Homo sapiens: one gene and its partner. Each later gene encodes a partner of the first gene's protein in a complex. Each region holds a gene or a part of one and is shown on either strand. Other genes may lie near its edges. The genes, in order: PDK3 and DLAT. A codon is read from its position in the direction of its gene.

Evidence for each region.
Region 2: the proteins of PDK3 (region 1) and DLAT are in contact, whole or in part, in a crystal structure (PDB 1Y8N), measured with the Homo sapiens proteins. Residues at the interface, in NP_005382.1 of Homo sapiens: Arg21, Phe22, Ser23, Pro24, Ser25, Pro26, Leu27, Phe48, Lys51, Val55, Asn373, Lys374, Ser375, Arg378; in NP_001922.2 of Homo sapiens: Ala225 (codon at 6,171), Leu226 (codon at 6,174), Ser227 (codon at 6,177), Pro228 (codon at 6,180), Thr229 (codon at 6,183), Glu248 (codon at 6,240), Gly249 (codon at 6,243), Lys259 (codon at 6,273), Ala260 (codon at 6,276), Ile262 (codon at 6,282), Glu265.

The regions. Positions count from the first base shown.
Region 1 is NC_000023.11:24,467,521-24,476,251, forward strand, and holds part of PDK3 (pyruvate dehydrogenase kinase, isozyme 3 isoform 2 precursor), read left to right. Parts: intron 1-8,731. UniProt on the Homo sapiens protein: Inhibits pyruvate dehydrogenase activity by phosphorylation of the E1 subunit PDHA1, and thereby regulates glucose metabolism and aerobic respiration. Can also phosphorylate PDHA2.
Region 2 is NC_000011.10:112,027,246-112,035,976, forward strand, and holds part of DLAT (dihydrolipoyllysine-residue acetyltransferase component of pyruvate dehydrogenase complex, mitochondrial isoform 2 precursor), read left to right. Parts: intron 1-1,269; coding exon 1,270-1,394; coding exon of another isoform or gene 1,395-1,398; intron 1,399-1,546; coding exon 1,547-1,700; intron 1,701-2,416; exon of another isoform or gene 2,417-3,146; intron 3,147-6,158; coding exon 6,159-6,285; intron 6,286-8,731.

The DNA of each region.
Region 1 (8,731 bases):
AGTGGAATTTGCTAGAAGTGACAAGGCTAGTTTGTAACACCCAGAGATGAATCAGGTGCTAATCAGCCTATCTTTAATGACAGGACAACTAAAAGACGGGAGTTGTTGCAAAAAGGCCATCTCTACTTCTACTTTTCTCTTAGTTCTGTCTCTTGATAGCAGTTCTATTTTGGCAATTGATGTGGGAGTTGGAGAATTCAGAATGGGTGTGGGATATTTTTAAGGTGAGGAGAGAGGAGGAGTGAAGAGGCTTCATGCCCCTGTATGATTAGAGAAAACTGCAGGAGAGGGCCAACTCAGGCACTTAAAGCACCAGGTAGTGGGCAGTGGATAAGTGAATGAAGCCAACGAGTTGAGGACCGTGATAAATTCCTGGTATATAGCTAGCTCCAAAGGGGCAGCTGATTGGCACCAATTCAGTATATTTCAAGAGAACTTTGGCATAAACAAAATAGATGGATGGATCAAGTTGGCCCACAGGCTGCTAGTTTATGAACTTGATGCCTTTCTCCATGGGTACTTTACAAATGGGACGTACATTTTGACTAGAGTAACTAGACAGGGACCAGAGAAAGGAGATACACAGGATATACACAATTTGTTACAACCTTGATAAATAGGCTTTCTTATGTGGATGTACTGCACATCAGTAAATAAGGAGATTATTTGCTATGTTCAAAAGTGGAGGCTAAAACTTGTTGTTACTTCAGAAGCTGTGCTTTTATTTTAAAGCAGGGGTTCCTGAGCCTCAGCACTCTTGCCATTTCAGGCCAGGTAATTTTGGTAGGAGCTGTCTTGTGCACTGTGGGAAGTTGAGCTACATCCCTGGCCTCTACCCACTAGATGCCATGAGCACCTCCCACTCCAAGTCGTGACAACCAAACATGTCTCCAGTCATTGCCAAATGTCCCCTGGGGGAGCAAAATGTCCCCTGGACTTCTGTTGAATCACTGTTTGGAAGTGTTTACTTGAGTGGTTTTCAGGCCAGGGCCTCATACTCTGAATTTTTGTTGTAAATGGTCTGGGGGTGCTGGGGGTGGAGAGCAGAGCACTGGTATTTTTAGGAGATCCCCCTGTCATTCTAAAGCATATCCAGGGTTAAGCACCATTAATCAGATGATCTTCTGTCTGATCTGCTGGCCCCCTTTCATCTATGTGCAGTATTTTTCTCTATGCTTTTTAAAATAATGAAAGTTTCTTGAACTCCATCTTGACTTGAAATATAGCCTGCCACACAGTTAGCAAATATAGCAAGAATAACAAGTGTTCTAAATGGATTTTTAATTTATTATGGCAATAGTACATTCCAAAGGGTGGCATTTTTTAAAATGAGATTTTTCTTTTGGGCCTAAGATTACAGTCACATGGTTCCAAATTCAGAGGGTTCAAAAGGACACAGAAAAGCCTGCTTCCCACTTGTGCCCACTGGCCTCCCCTTTTTTCGCATAAATGGCAGTTTATAGCTTTGTCTGTTCCTTGTTTTTTGAGCTTAATACCTTAGAGACAGATTTTTGTATATCTGTACCTGCAGAACTTTGTTTTTCTTTTTTATGGCTTCTGAGAATTTGGTTATATGAATGTACCAGAATTTATTAGCAACTTTCCCTATTGATGGCTACAATTAATAGGTTGTTTCTAGACTTTGCTGTGGCAACCTGCCCTCCAGTGAATTATTATATGCATTGTCATTTCATGCATGTCCGCGTGTATCTGTAGGACAGATTCCTAAACGTGAGATTGCTACATCAGCAGGTATGTGCATTTGTAATTTTGGCGAACATTGTCAAATTGCTTTCCATAAAGGTTGTTTGTTTTCCCCCTCGCTAGAAGTTTCTGAGAGTACCTGTTTTCCTATGCCTTCACCACATTGTTGTCAAACTTTTGATAGGTAAAAAAAAAATGATATATCTAGATAGAATTTTTTTCTCCTTGAGTAAAGATGTCTTTATTTTAGTTTTTTATTGTGGAAATTAAAAAAAAAAACTTAGGTGGGTGCCTGTAATTCCAGTGCTTTGAGAGGCCAAGACAGAGGATGGCTTGAGACCAGGAGTTTGAGGCCAGCCCTGGGCAACATAGTGAGATCCTGTCTCTAAAAAAAATAATAATAATAAATAAATAAGATTAGCCAGGAGTGGTGGTATCGCACACCTGGGGTCTTAGCTACTCAGGAGGCTGAGACAGGAGGATGGCTTGAGCCCAGATTGAAGCTGCAGTGAGCTGTGTTTCTGCCACTGCACTCCAGCCTGGGGGATGTACATGTATAGGTAAATACATATATAAATTTTATTGTGTATAATTAAGGTATACAACATGATGTTATGGGATACATATAGTTAAAAGGTTACTACAGTGAAATTAACATATCTATCATCTCACATAGTTACCCTTTTTTATTTTTGTGGCAAGGTCAGCTAAAATCTACTCATTTAGCATGAATCCCATATACAGTACAATTTTATTATCTATTATATATTCTTCATGTTGTGCATTAGATCTCTAGACCTTAAACATTTACAGAAGTAGAGAGAATAGAATGATGAACTCCTGGGTTTGTTTTATTGATATCCATTTGCTATTTGTCTGTAGATGTTGTATGTGTGGTCTGTTAGATTTTCTGATCAAAGTCATGCTTGTTTCAAAAAGATAAATTTTTGTTTTCAAAAAGATAAATTTTTTTCTTTTCCTATGCTAAGACTAATTTATCTTTTGAATTATCTGGTTCTTAAAGATTTGGTAGAACTTCATATGAAAGTGTTTAAGCCTGTATGTTTTGGGGAGTTTTGCTCTCTGATAGCTTTCTCTATTCTGTGTTATTGATCTCTGTAGATTTTCTGTCTCTTCTAGAGTCCATTTTGATATATTTTTCTTGAAAATTATCCTACTTGGCTAGGCGCGGTGGCTCATGCCTGTAATCCCAGCACTTTGGGAGGCCAAGGCAGGTGGATCACATGGGGTTGGGAGTTTGAGACCAGCCTGGCCAACATGGTGAAACCTCGTCTCTACTAAAAATACAAACATTAGCTGGGCATAGTGGTGGGTGCCTGTAATCCCAGCTACTGGGGAGGCTGAGGTAGGAGAATTGCTTGAACCCAGGAGGCGGAGGTTGCAGTGAGCCAAGATCATGCCCTTGTACTCCAGCCTGGGTGACAAGAGTGAAACGGCATCTCAAAAAAAAAAAAAAAAAAAAAAAGAAGAAAAGAAAAAAAGAAAATTATCCTACTCATTGAGGTTTTTAAGTCAGTTTGGATAGCTGAGATAGTTGTCACTGAACAGTCTTAATTTTCCCTGTGACATTTGTCCCCCCCCTTCTTCTTGAGTAGGTTAGTTGATGATTTATTGGGTTGGATTTATTAGTTTTATGACTTTTGTTATCTAGTTTATTGTCTGATTTGACTTTAATAATTCCTTCTGGTCTCAGGTTTATTTTGTTCTTTTAAAAATTAGGTGCTTTCTGTTCTCACTCATAAGTGGGAGTTGAACAATGAGAACACATGGACACGGCAAGGGGAACATCACACACCAGGGCCTGTCGGGAGGTGGGGGGGCTAGGGGAGAGATAGCATTAGGAGAAATACCTAATGTAGATGACAAGTTGATGGGTGCAGCAAACCACCATGGCACGTGTATACCTATGTAACAAACCTGCACGTTCTGCACATGTACCCCAGAACTTAAAGTATAATAAAAAAAATTAAATGCTTTCTTCTTTGTCTTGTTTATTTCAATGTTTAAGGTTAGTTATTCCTCTGAGCACTGCTTTAGCAGCTGATGTGTGTATTTGGTCTTTTTTCTCTTAGCTCTTCTGTGTCTTCAGGTTTTTATTTTCCTATGAATGAAGAGTTGTTTGGAGGAGTTAAAAATTTCCAGTGAAGGTGCATTCTGCATTTTAATTTTATTTATGTCTAGTTTTGTTGCACTGTGATTACAGAATGTTGTCTGAATTATTCTCTAATTTATTGATGTTAACTTTGAAGCTCATTATATGGTTGTTTTCTGTGAATGTTCCTTGGGCAGCGAAAAGAAGGTTATACTCTCTTCTCAGGTTGCAGAGTGTGATATGTCAGCTCTGCAATATTATGTTATTTAGGTTTTGTGTAACTTTACTTTTTTTATCCACCTGATTTGTCATGGATCAAACACAAGAGAAGTTAAAGTCTCCTAATAATGATTCTCTTTCTCCGTATAGCTCCTATTGTTTTTGCTTTATGACTATCAGTGTTATGTTTGATGCTTATTAACTCACATCCTCATTGTGAGATATACCCATTAGCATTAGAGTGCTGCCCTTTTACTAGTTGAAGGCTTTTTGGCCTGGATTCGTCCTTATTTGACATTGAGATCTAGTTCCCTATTTTCTTGTTTACATTTCCTGGGATAGCATTGCCATCCTTTTATTTTCAGTTTTTCTGAATTACTTCGCTCTAAATATGTCTCTAAATGTAGTGTAAAGTTGGGTTTTGCTTTGTGAATCAGTCTTTTTCATGTGGTAAGTTTAACCTATTTATACTTACTGGTATGATAGATCTGTCATCTGTAATGATAAGCATTTGTAATTTTCTGTTGCTTTCTGTTTTTAATACCTCAGTTTTCCTATGTTATATATTTGCTTTGTTTTGCCATATTTATTTTAATAAATAACTAGGCTTGAATTTTTGGTTCTAGTGGTTATCTTTATAGTTATTACTTTATTTCTATAGACCTTTGTCCCATATGGGTCACCACTTGTCAGCCAGGAGACCTTTGAGCACTTGAAATGTGGCTAGTGTGGCCGAAAAACTGAATTGACTTAATTTAAATTTAAAATGGATACTTGATGCAGTTAATTTTTACATCTGTGTAGAATAACTTGGATATGGAATCCACTTTATCACCTGTAAATTTTAGGAAATCTCTTTATAGGTCAATTATTTCTGATAGAAATTTAGCCTCTGAATTGAGATGTGCTTTCAGTATAAAATACACACTGGATTTCAAAGACTTAATATAAAAATAGTAAAATATCAGTACATCTTATATTGATTGCATGTTGAAATGGTAATATTTTAGATATGTTGGGTTAAATGGAATATTATCAAAAACTTTATTTCTTTTTTATGTTAATGTGGCTACTAGGAAATTTTAAATTATATATATGGCTTACATATTTCTTTCTTTCTTTTTTTTTTTTTTTTTTTTTTTTTTGTGAGACGGAGTTTTTGCTCATGTTGCCCAGGCTGGAGTGCAATGGTGCGATCTGGGCTCACCGCAACCTCCGCCTCCCAGGTTCAAGTGATTCTCCTGCCTCAGCCTCCCAAGTAGCTGGGATTACAGGCATGCGCCTACATGCCCAGCTAATTTTGTATTTTTAGTAGAGATGGGGTTTCTCCATGTTGGTCAGGCTGGTCTTGAACTCTCGACCTCAGGTGATCTGCCCACCTCAGCCTCCCAAAGTGCTAGGATTACAGGCATGAGCCACAGCCCCTGGCCTGGCTCACATATTTATATTGGACAGTGTGGCTTCAGATAATATATGTTAATTCCTTATTGGGAGCAATGAAAACATCACATTTTAATGTTCAGAATAAACATTTATTGGCTGGGTGCAGTGGCTCACGCCTGTAATCCCAGCACTTTGGGAGGCCGAGGTGGGTGGATCACGAGGTCAAGAGATTGAGACCATCCTGGCCAACGTGGTGAAACCCCGTCTCTACTAAAAATACAAAAATTAGCCAGGCATGGTGGTGGGCGCCTATAGTCCCAGGTACTCGGGAGGCTGAGGCAGGAGAATTACTTGAACCTGGGAGGTGGAGGTTGCAGTGGGCCAAGATTGCGCCACTGCACTCCAGCCTGGCTAGAGTGAGACTCCGTCTCAAAAAACAAAACAAACAAACAAACAAAAACAAAAAAACCAACCACACATTTGTTGAATTTATTTATTTATTTATTTACTTATTTGAGACAGAGTCTCACTCTGTCACCTAGGCCAGAGTGCAACGGCTTGGTCTTGGCTCACTGCAACCTCTGCCTCCCGGGTTCAGGTGATTCTCCTGCCTCAGCCTCCCGAGTAGCTGGGATTACAGGTGTCTGCCACCACGCCTGGCTTATTTTTGTATTTTTAGTAGAGACGGGGTTTTGCCCTATTGCCCAGGCTGGTCTCGAACTCCTGACCTTAGGTGATCTACCCGCCTCTGCCTCCCAAAGTGCTGGGATTACAGGCATGAGTCACCGTGCCTGGCCTGAATTTATTTCCTGAAATATAACTTTCACATGTCTTGTTCCATATTTTTTTCTATAAACCTCTCTGGATTTTTGGATCAATGTATTGTTTTTGACTGGCAGTTAATGTTATGGTGGCTCCTTGTTATATTTGCACAAATTTGAGTTCTCTTTCCCTTAAGCAGTTGTGATAAATTAAAAATTCTCTTAATTATATAAGAAAAGGAGAACTTGGACTATTATGGCATAAAGATAGAACCTTCTGAATGTTGAATGAGTTGGTAGGAAATGATTCACATTTTCTTTTGGACTTGCTTTTCATCTTTCAGTCTCGCCCTGTCGGCTTCTGGTTCCCATATTAACCACTTTTCTCCCCTCCCTGCAGACTGACGTCCCATTTGTTTGATTTTCCAGTTACTTTTGCACAGCCACACTTGCATTAAAGAGATTTTGCTCCTGCCTCCTTTTCTTAGATTTTATCCTCAATTGTCTCTTTCCAAAGGGCAGGCGCTCACCTCTTTTTTGTAACCTCTTACAGCTTCCTCAGCTCAGCTTGCTCTGCACAGAGCAGGTGCTCCATAAATGGCAATTACTGATGGCATGCCTGACTCCATATCGAGGTTATTAAACATTATGCCACTTTCATTTAGTCAGTTATATAAGTTTATTTTATTTATTTATTTATTTATTTATTTATTTATTTATTTATTTATTTTGAGACGGAGTCTCACTCTGTCGCCCAGGCTAGAGTGCAGTGGCACCATCTCGGCTCACTGCAACCTCCGCCTCCCAGGTTCAAGCAGTTCTCGTGCCTCAGCCTCCCGAGTACCTGGGACTACAGGCATGCGCCACCACGCCCGGCTAATTTTTGTATTTTTAGCAGAGACGGGGTTTCACCGTCTTGGCCAGGCTGGTCTCGAACTCCTGACTTCAGGTGATCCACCCGCCTCTGCCTCCCAAAGTGTTGGGATTACAGACGTGAGCCACTGTGCCCAGCCAAGTTTAAACTTCCATAGTGTCCCCATGTGTAAATATAGCATCTCTCAAAACCACCAGAAAGCAGATTGCTGATAGCCCTGCCGTCTTTTCACAAAACTAAATATTTTGATTTCTGTCATAATCACACCGGCTCTGTGAACCTCAGAGCCTTTAGCTCTTAGAAGGTAGCGGCCAGTTTCCGCATTCTTACTATTCTTAAAGTTTAAGGGCCCAGCCATCTTCTTTTCCTTTAGAACATATTTTAAGATACTTTGGAGATACTTTGGTTCCAAATGACTCCCTTTCGCAAAGTCTTGGCTTTTTAAGTCATTTTGCTCCTTGAAGCCTGATCACCACTGGGGACAACAGTGATTGCGTTCTTGGAGAAAATGGAAAGGTTTTTAAAAAAATTATGTTAGGAAAAGGGAAAAACAATCTCATTCTGCTTCCGAGTGTGTTTATTTTGTACCTTTACATATGTAAATGACAGATTTTTTTTTTTTTTCCCTGTAAGCAGTAGTTTTTCTGCTACAAGGTGTCACCAAGAATTAGACCAACCTGTTTGGAGAAAGGGATCAACTATTCAGAATTAAAGGGGAAGAGAAAAATTTAGTTGAGGGTAAAGATATCTAACTTGGCTTATTGCATCTTGACCAGTTTTTAAATTTAAAGAAAGAATTGGTCCAGGCACTGTGGCTAATGCCTGTAATCCCAGCATTTTGAGAGGCTGAGGCAGGAGGATCGCTTGAGTCCAGGAGTTTGAGACCAGCTCGGGCAACACAGTGAGACCCCTGTCTCTACAAAAAAATAAAAAAATTATCCAGGCATAGTGGTGCACCCCTGTGGTCCCGGCTACATGGGAAGCTGAGATGGGAGGATCGCTTGAGCCTGGGAAGTTGAGGCTGCAGTGAGCTGGGATCGCGTCACTGCACTCCAGCCTGGACAATAGAGCAAGACCATGTCTCAAAAAAAGAAGGAGGGAGGGAAGTAGAAAGGGAAGGAAAGAAGGGAGGAAAGGTAGAAGACGGAAGGAGGAAAGGAAGGAAAGAAGGGAGGAAGTGAGGGCTTTTTGGGCCTTTAAGATCTGATAAGGCTGCATTTTAACATGGCGTGGTTTATCTGGCTCTGGGGCAGCTCTCAGGCACCAAAGTCATGGCTTTGGCCTCACTGTCTTTGTAGCACTTATGTTTTGTGTGCTTTTGAAAGTGGAGACAGCTGCAGTTACTGATCTATTGATGGTTGGGTGGTTTCCTCCCATTAAGCTTTTGGAAAATTGATCAGACTGTTGGCAAGGTTTGGGAAACCTTGGTTTTGTTACTGGATGGAATCTGAAAATATCACTGCTTTTTCTTTTCCTGTATATGTATAGGCATTCCATTATTTTACTTCCATGGTAATCTGATTTTAGAGTTGGGCAAATCCTTTTATTTTAGGAATACCCTGGTCTAAGAATGTCAACCTATAGCCTGAGGGCTGGCCACCTGTTTTTTTTTTTCTAATTAATAGACTGTTTTTTAAAAAGAGTACAGTTCGTCCTCCATATCTGTGGGTTCCACAT
Region 2 (8,731 bases), on another chromosome or scaffold:
CCTCACCTCCCGGACGGGGTCGCGGCCGGGTAGAGGCGCTCCTCACATCCCAGACGGGGCGGCGGGGCAGAGGCGCTCCCCACATCTCAGACGATGGGCGGCCGGGCAGAGGCGCTCCTCACTTCCTAGATGGGATGGCAGCCGGGCAGAGACGCTCCTCACTTTCCAGACTGGGCAGCCAGGCAGTGGGGCTCCTCACGTCCCAGACGATGGGCGGCCAGGCAGAGACGCTCCTCACTTCCCAGACGGGGTGGCAGCCGGGCAGAGGCTGCAATCTCGGCACTTTGGGAGGCCAAGGCAGGCGGCTGGGAGGTGGAGGTTGTAGCGAGCCGAGATCACGCCACTGCACTCCAGCCTGGGCACCATTGAGCACTGAGTGAACCAGACTCCGTCTGCAATCCCGGCACCTCGGGAGGCCAAGGCTGGCGGATCACTCGCGGTTAGGAGCTGGAGACCAGCCCGGCCAACACAGCGAAACCCCGTCTCCACCAAAAAAATACGAAAACCAGTCAGGCGTGGCGGCGCGTGCCTGCAATCGCAGGCACTCAGCAGGCTGAGGCAGGAGAATCAGGCAGGGAGGTTGCAGTGAGCCGAGAAGGCAGCAGTACAGTCCAGCTTCGGCTCAGCATCAGAGGGAGACCGTGGAAAGAGAGGGAGAGGGAGACCGTGGGGAGAGGGAGAGGGAGACGGAGAGGGAGAGGGAGAGGGTAAGTTGTTTTAAAGTAACGGAGATGAGTTCGAAGAGACTGGCTTTGCCTAATTGACTGAACATTGACTTTCTGGATGTGTAGCTACCCCTTTGTTTAAGAAACTGAAGTGTTTTTCACAACTTGATGTTAGACAAGATTGGTTGGATAAGTTGTCAGCAGCTGGCCAAACTGATTTTAACCAAGGCGTTTCTAAAGTAATTTCTTCTTTGAAATCTGTCGTAGTGGCCTTATCTTCACATGAACTGTATAATTCTAGACACAAAGGCCAGGCTGGCCAACATGGTGAAACCCCGTCTCTGCTAAAAATACAAAAATCAGCCGGGCATGGCAGCCTGTTCCTGTAATCCCAGCTACTCGGGAGGCTGAGGCAGGATAATCGCTTGAACCTGGGAGGGGGAGGTTGCAATGAGCCGAGATTGCACCACTGCACTCCAGCCTTGGTGACAGAATGAGACTCTGTGTCTCAAAAAAAAAAAAAAAAAAAAAAAAATTCTAGACACAAGCTAATAAATTACATACCAACAGTACAAACCTGAGCTACTGCTTTTTGTGTTAAAAGGTTGAAACTGATAAAGCCACTGTTGGATTTGAGAGCCTGGAGGAGTGTTATATGGCAAAGATACTTGTTGCTGAAGGTACCAGGGATGTTCCCATCGGAGCGATCATCTGTATCACAGTTGGCAAGTGAGTAGTGCGCTCATAATTTGTGGAACTTCATTGCTTGGTGGAGTATTTTACCCAGAATTGAGAATTAGGAGTTAAAGACTATTTTTTAAGACTACTTTTGTGAAAGCTGAATCTGCCCATTATATTTATGCATTCTTTCTCTTCCTTAGGCCTGAGGATATTGAGGCCTTTAAAAATTATACACTGGATTCCTCAGCAGCACCTACCCCACAAGCGGCCCCAGCACCAACCCCTGCTGCCACTGCTTCGCCACCTACACCTTCTGCTCAGGCTCCTGGTAGCTCATATCCCCCTCACATGCAGGTGAGGCTCAGCCTCTGAGTTTTTGCTCTAGGTGATTACTTACTTACTCACTTTTTTTCATAGATGGCTACTACATCTTGGAAACTGACATTAAATGTGGTTAGGTCTTGTCATTTGGGAGTATATAGGTTTAAACATGAAGATTGACAACTATTCTTCCTGGTTGTTATTTCCAGTTATAAGAACTTGAACAGTTCCTGTAACCTTTCTCAGCCTCAGTGTAGTACACAGGGTAATGCGTGGCACTTTTCATTCAAGAACATTACATTACAGATTTTGAGGATGATTTTTACTAACATCTATTCCCTGTATAATTAGAGTTTATAGCAGGCTGTGTTAGTCTGTTTTACTTTGGCATGAAGAAATACCTAGGGCTGGGTAATTTATAAAGAAAAAAGGTTCATTTGGCTCAAGGTTCTGCAGGCTGTACAAGAAGCAGGGCGCCAGCATCTGTTTCTCTTGTGGCCACAGGAAGCTTACAATCATGGTGGAAGTTGGAAGGGAAAGGGGAAGGGTGGTGTGTCCCATGAGAGAGGGAACAAGAGACAGAGGGGAGTGGGTAACCAGGCTCTTTATAGCAATCAGATTTCCCCTTAACTCATTACCATGGGGCATGCAGCAAGCCATTCACGAGGGATCCTCCTCCAATACCCAGACACCTGCCACCAGACCCCATCTCTAACATTGGGGATCATATTTCTTTTTTTTTTTTTCCACATACAAAAAAACTTTATTTACACAGTCTTGGATTCTGAATCTCCAGTACTTCCAGGGTCTCTTGATCAAATGGGGCAGCAGCAGGCAGGGAAGCAAACACAGGGGCCAGTCCAGATTATCTTACTCAAGAACACCACCAAGAAGGGAAGGCCTAATTCAGTCTTGGTCTGGACTACATCTCCCCGCACTTTGAGATCACCACAGTAGTTTGGGCTTATTGTTGGGGCCTGTGGGAACATTCTGAATCTTTCTCATCACTAGAAGTCCATCAGTGATTTTTCCAAACATTACATGCTTCCCATCCAGCCAATCACACTTAGAGCAGGTGATAAAGAACTGACAGCCATTTGTACTGGGACCGCTGTTTGCCGTGGAAAGCAGGCCTGGAGCTGAGTGTCTAAGTTTAAAATTTTCGTCTGCGAATGTCTCCTGGTAAATACTGGCGACTCCAGTACCATCTCCATTAACAAAATCTCCACCCTAAATCATGAAATCCTTTATGACCCTGTGGAAAGTGCTTCCTTTGTATCCTATTGGAACCCCATCTTTTCTGAATTCTCTAGTGCAGAACTACCCAAAGTTCTCGGTCGTCTTAGGCACAACGTCTGCAGAGAGCTCGATCTTTGTGCGGCCAACTTCCTGACTGCCATTGCTGACATCAAAGAACACCATGGGGTTAGCAGGGCTTGAAGTTGCCACCACCATGGCTCTGACCCGGAAACGGAAGTCGGGGGATCATATTTCAGCATGAGATTTGGAGGGGACAGACATCCAAGCTGTATCATAGGTGTCAAGTGCTGTCTGTTGAATGAAAGTCCCCAGTTGGTGTTCTTTTGACATGTGGTGATCTATTTTCCAAGAGTGGGTGAAGTAGTCCAATAGTATTAATAAATGAGAAAACTGACAAAAGTTAAGTGTAAGATACACATATGTAATAGTGTTGCATCAAAGTTGAAGGCAGTGAATGTAATCACTGTTGATTGTGCTAACTAAATCAGTTTCTAAGAAACTAAGTCAGTTTATTAGGTATTAGGGTTATCGTCTGTATATTTGTGTGCTTTAGATGTTAAAAGTGGATAAAAATCCAGCCGTCCTTTTCTAAATAATTCTGACTGGCATTTCTCCTTAATCTAGTTTATTTGTAGAAATTTTTGTATAGGAATCTTTTTCTCCTTTGGAAATAATGTTCTACTCCATGGTCTGTTAGTAACAATCATTTAGGATTTTTTGCCAGGTGTTCAGTTCACACATGTATTACATGCTGTTCGGCAAATTCTATCTCATGATGTAAGACTGACTTAATTTTCCTCTACTTTGTGTCTGTAGCTTTGTGTGCATGTGTTAGGGTTTTACCTTAATTATTCTTTAAGATACTGAATTGGATTCTGAATCTCTGATAGTATTCTTTAAGATACTGTATAGAGATTATTGGCTTCACTGTTTCTTAAGAAGCAGATGAAGATGGCAAATTCTGCACAAAAAAAGCACTTACAATTTTTTTTCTAAGGCTTGTCTTACTTTCCCCTCTCTGGAAACATCTTCAATTGAAGTTATTTTCCTCTCCGCATAATCCTGTTGCTAATCAGATACAGAAGACAAAGAGGATAGCAAATGAAACCAAATTCAGTGGATACACAAGCCATATAAATAGTAAAGCAATTTTACATTTAGATAGGCATTCTGATGTTTGGATATTATTGGGGTGGAAATGGCTATTATAAAAACAGGGCTTTTTTTACCCCTGGTTTTTTATTTTTATTTATTTATTTTTTGAAACAGGGTCTCACTCCATCACCTAGGCTGGAGTGCAGTGGCATGATTTCGGCTCACTGCAACCTCTGCCTCCTGGGTTCAAGCGATTCTCCTGCCTCAGCCTCCCGACTAGCTGGGAATACATGCACATACCACCACACCTAGCTATTTTATTTTTTGAGATAGGGTCTCACTCTTCACCTAGGCTGGAGTGCAGTGGTGCAATCTTAGCTCACTGTAGCCTTGACCTCCTGGCTCAAGCCATCCTCCCACCTCAGCCTCCCAAGACGCTGTGACTACAGGCACGTGCCACCATGCCCAGCTAATTTTTTTTTTTTTTTTTTTTTAAGAGATGAGGTTACATCATGTTGCTCAGGCTGGTCGTGAACTCCTGGGCTCAAGTGATCCTCCTGCATCAGCCTACCAAAATGCTGAGATTATAGGCATGAGCCACCATGCTGGTCTTTCCTGTTTTTTTTTTTTTTTTTTTTTTTTTTTTTTGAGACAGTCTTGCTCTGTCACCATGGCTGGAGTGTAGTGGCACGATCTTGGCTCACGGCAACCTCTGCGATTCTCATGCCTCAGCCTCCTGAGTAGCTGGGACTACAGGTGGGTGTCACCATGCCCAGCTAATTTTGGTATTTTTAGCAGAGGAGGGGGTTTCGACATGATGGCCCGGCTGGTCTTGAACTCCTGGCCTCAAGTGATCCGCCCCTCCCAAGTGATCCTTGGCCTCCCAAAGTGCTGGGATTACAGATGTGAACAGCTGTGCCTGGCCTCCTGTTTTATTTTTTTGAATGATCATCATGCCACTGCACTCCAGGCTGGGCAACAGAGTAAGACTCCATCTCAAAAAAAAAAAAAATTATCAAATAAAATTCTGTGTAAGAATTCTGTGTACATATATTATATACAACAAGTTGTTTTGAAATATGTATATATTGTGGAATGGCTAGATTGAGCTAATTTATATATGCATTACTTTATAGACTTATCTTTTAGGCCACTTAAAAATCTACTGTCAGGAATTTACAAGAATACAATACATTGTTATTAACTATTGTCACCAAATAATGTTTTTTTTTTTAATATGGAATGCTTCACGAATTTGTTGTCCTTGCGCAGGGGCCATGCTAATCTCTATATCGTTCCAATTTTAGTATATGTGTTGCTGAAGCGAGCACAGAACAGTTCTTAATATTACGTTTTTATCTTGGAAAGATATCTGGTAAGGTTGGGACAAATGCAGTTTCCTGTGGGTAAAAAATAGGTAGATGCTAAGTACAGAGCGCAGTAAAATTTTAACAGAATGGTTTGGACCAAGGTCATTTTGTGAAAATGAAAAACTTCTTGGTTAAAAAAAAATGAAGTCTGGGCGCGGTGGCTCACGCCTGTAATCCCAGCACTTTGGGAGGCCAGGGCGGGCGGATTACTTGTGGATGGGCGTTCAGAGACCAGCCTGGCCAACATGGTAAAACCCCATCTCTACAAAAATACAAAAATTAGTGGGCATGATGGCACCCGCCTGTAATCCAGCTACTCGGGAGGCTGAGGCAGGAGAATCACTTGAAACCAGGAGGTGGAGGTTGCAGTGAGCCGAGATTGCGCCATTGCTCTCCAGCCTGGGGGACAGAGCAAGACTCTGTCTCAAAATAAAAATAAAAATAAAAATAGATGAAAAGATGCTCCATACTTAGATGTTGAGAAATTAATTTTGACTGTCTGAAAGAAATCTTTCCCATGTGCTTGTTGCATTTAACTTGGAGTGTGTGTTAGAGTGTGGGCGAGAGTATAAGAGTATGGGTCAGAGTATGAGATTTGAAGGATGATTTACCTGGTGGGAAGCTATTGAGGTGTGAAGCTTTTGCTGTGGTGAGTATTTGGATTATCATAGTCACCATCATTCTATGAAACCACATAAGTCTGCCAGACTTTTATTATGTAGAAGTCTTCCTGGTATTAAGCAATAATATGTGTTTGTTTCTGCAGGTACTTCTTCCTGCCCTCTCTCCCACCATGACCATGGGCACAGTTCAGAGATGGGAAAAAAAAGTGGGTGAGAAGCTAAGTGAAGGAGACTTACTGGCAGAGATAGAAACTGACAAAGCCACTATAGGTGAGATTTCTTCAGCTCTTAATGGTTGAGGCACTGAGTTTCCCAATGAGGAAGAGGATTGCCATTCTTTCCTATAATGAGTGAGTGATAATATGAAAACTTTATAATTCTTAGGATTCATTTTCTGGGACAGAATATTTTATTTTTATTTAGTTATATGTATTCTTTAGTTTTTATTTATTTATTTGTTTATTTGCTTATTTTTCAGACAGGGTCTTAATCTGTTGCCCAGGCTGGAGTGCGGTGGCAAGATCATAGCTCATTGTAGCCTTGAACTCCTGGGCTTATGCCCAAATGATCCTCCTGCTTTAGCCTCACAAGTAGGTAGGACTACAGGCCTGAACCACCACACCTAGCTGATTTTTTAAATTTTTTGTAGAGATGGGGTCTCACTTTATTGCCCAGGCTGGTTTTGAACTCCTGGCTCAAGCGATCCTCCTGCCTTGGCCTCTCAAAGTGCTGGGACTCCAAGCGTGAGCCCCTGTTCCTGGCCCAGCATAATTTATAACAAAAATAATGCGTAGTCAGATTTGTCAGTTCCATCCTGTGCTCACTGAATCAAAGGCAATCAATCTGTCAATTCACAGATTATTTTTAGGCCCAAGTTTGCTTCTTGGCCTTATTATGTTACTGAGAAGCTATATCAGAATTGCTGCTGTCTAAACTAGGCAAAGGAAGTCAAGAAGAAACAGGAGAAAATCACTTCCATGGCAGGATAATAGCAAAGAATTTAAGATGACTTTGAGGGAAAACTGAAACCAGGGTTGAGATTGTTTTCATAGTTTGAGAATGACTGATAGAATGTATGTGTGTAATATATATATGTTCAGATATGTCATATGTCCACATATCTCCTTCTTAATTCATTTTTAGGCTAAAAAAACCCATATAGACAATAATATATTTATTATTATTATTTTTTTTTTTTTTGAGACGGAGTCTCGCTGTGTTGCCCAGGCTGGAGTGCAGTGGCGCAGTCTCAGCTCACTGCAAGCTCCACCTCCTGGGTTCACGCCATTCTCCTGCCTCAGCCTCCCGAGTAGCTGGGACTACAGGTGCCCGCTGCCACGCCTGGCTAATTTTTTGTATTTTTAGTAGAGATGGGGTTTCACTGTGTTAGCCAGGATGGCCTTGATCTCCTGACCTCGTGATCCACCTGTCTTGGCCTCCCAAAGCGCTGGGATTACAGGCGTGAGCCATGGCGATTTGTAGTATTATGAATTTCTTCTCTCTGCACCCCCGCTTTTTCTTTTTTTTTTTTGAGACAGAGTTTTGCTCTGTCACCCAGGCTTGAGTACAGTGGTGCGATCTTGGCTTACTGCAGCCTCCGCCTCCTGGGTTCAAGCAATTCTCCTGCCTCAGCCTCCCGAGTAGCTGGGACTACAGGCATGCACCACCATGCCTGGCTAATTTTTTGCATTTTTAGTAGAGATGGAGTTTCACCATGTTGGCCAGGCTGGTCTCGAGCTCTTTAACCTCAGGTGATCTGCCTGCCTCGGCCTCCCAAAGTGCTGGGATTACAGGCATAAGCCACCGCACCCAGCCTCTCTGCTTCATAATCACCACCAAAGGGAAGCCTTTCCCAAAGATGTAATGGGAGGTACTGGGCATCCTCTGCCTTGGTTGTTTTCAGATTGTGTTCTTCAAATCCCATCATTCCTTTAAGGCACCTTGAGGCAAAGGGGGAATTAAAGAGCAGGACCTTACAGCCCTGCCTCCCTGCCTTACTTCCAGCAGAGCAGTTCTTTTCTATCTTTTTGTATTTTGTGCTTCCCCATAAATTTTATTTGAAGAAAGGATTCTGTTTCTTAAAAACACAGAAACTTTGGAAACAGTAGTTCTGCTTCACCATTTAACTTGAATACCAGTGTCACTATAGAGACTAGTCACTAGAGAAGTGTTACCTTGGTTGAACTTTGAAGTCTATTGTGGCCCAGGAGCCTTTTCATTTTAAACACTTCTTTTTTTTTTTTTTGGAAACAGAGTCTGGCTCTGTTGTCCAGGCTGGAGTGCGGTGGCGTGATCTCGGCCCACCACAACCTCTGCCTCCTGGGTTCAAGCGATTCTCCTGCCTGAGCCTCCTGAGTAGCTGGGACTACAGGTGCATGCCACTACGCCCGGCTAATTTTTGTATTTTTAGTAGAAATGTGGTTTCACTATGTGGGCCAGGCTGGTCTTGAACTCCTGACCTCGTGATCTGACTGCCTTGTGCCTCCCAAAGTGCTGGGATTACAGGCGTGAGCCACCACCGCACCCAGCCTTTTTTTTTTTTTTTTTTGAGATAGAGTCTTGCTTTGTCGCCCAGGCTGGAGTGCAATGGCATGATCTTGGCTCACTGCAATTTCCACCTCCCGGGTTCAAGCAATTCTCCTGCCTCAGCTGCCCAAGTAGCTGGGATTACAGGCGCCTGCCACCATGCCTGGCTAATTTTTGTATTTTTAGTGGA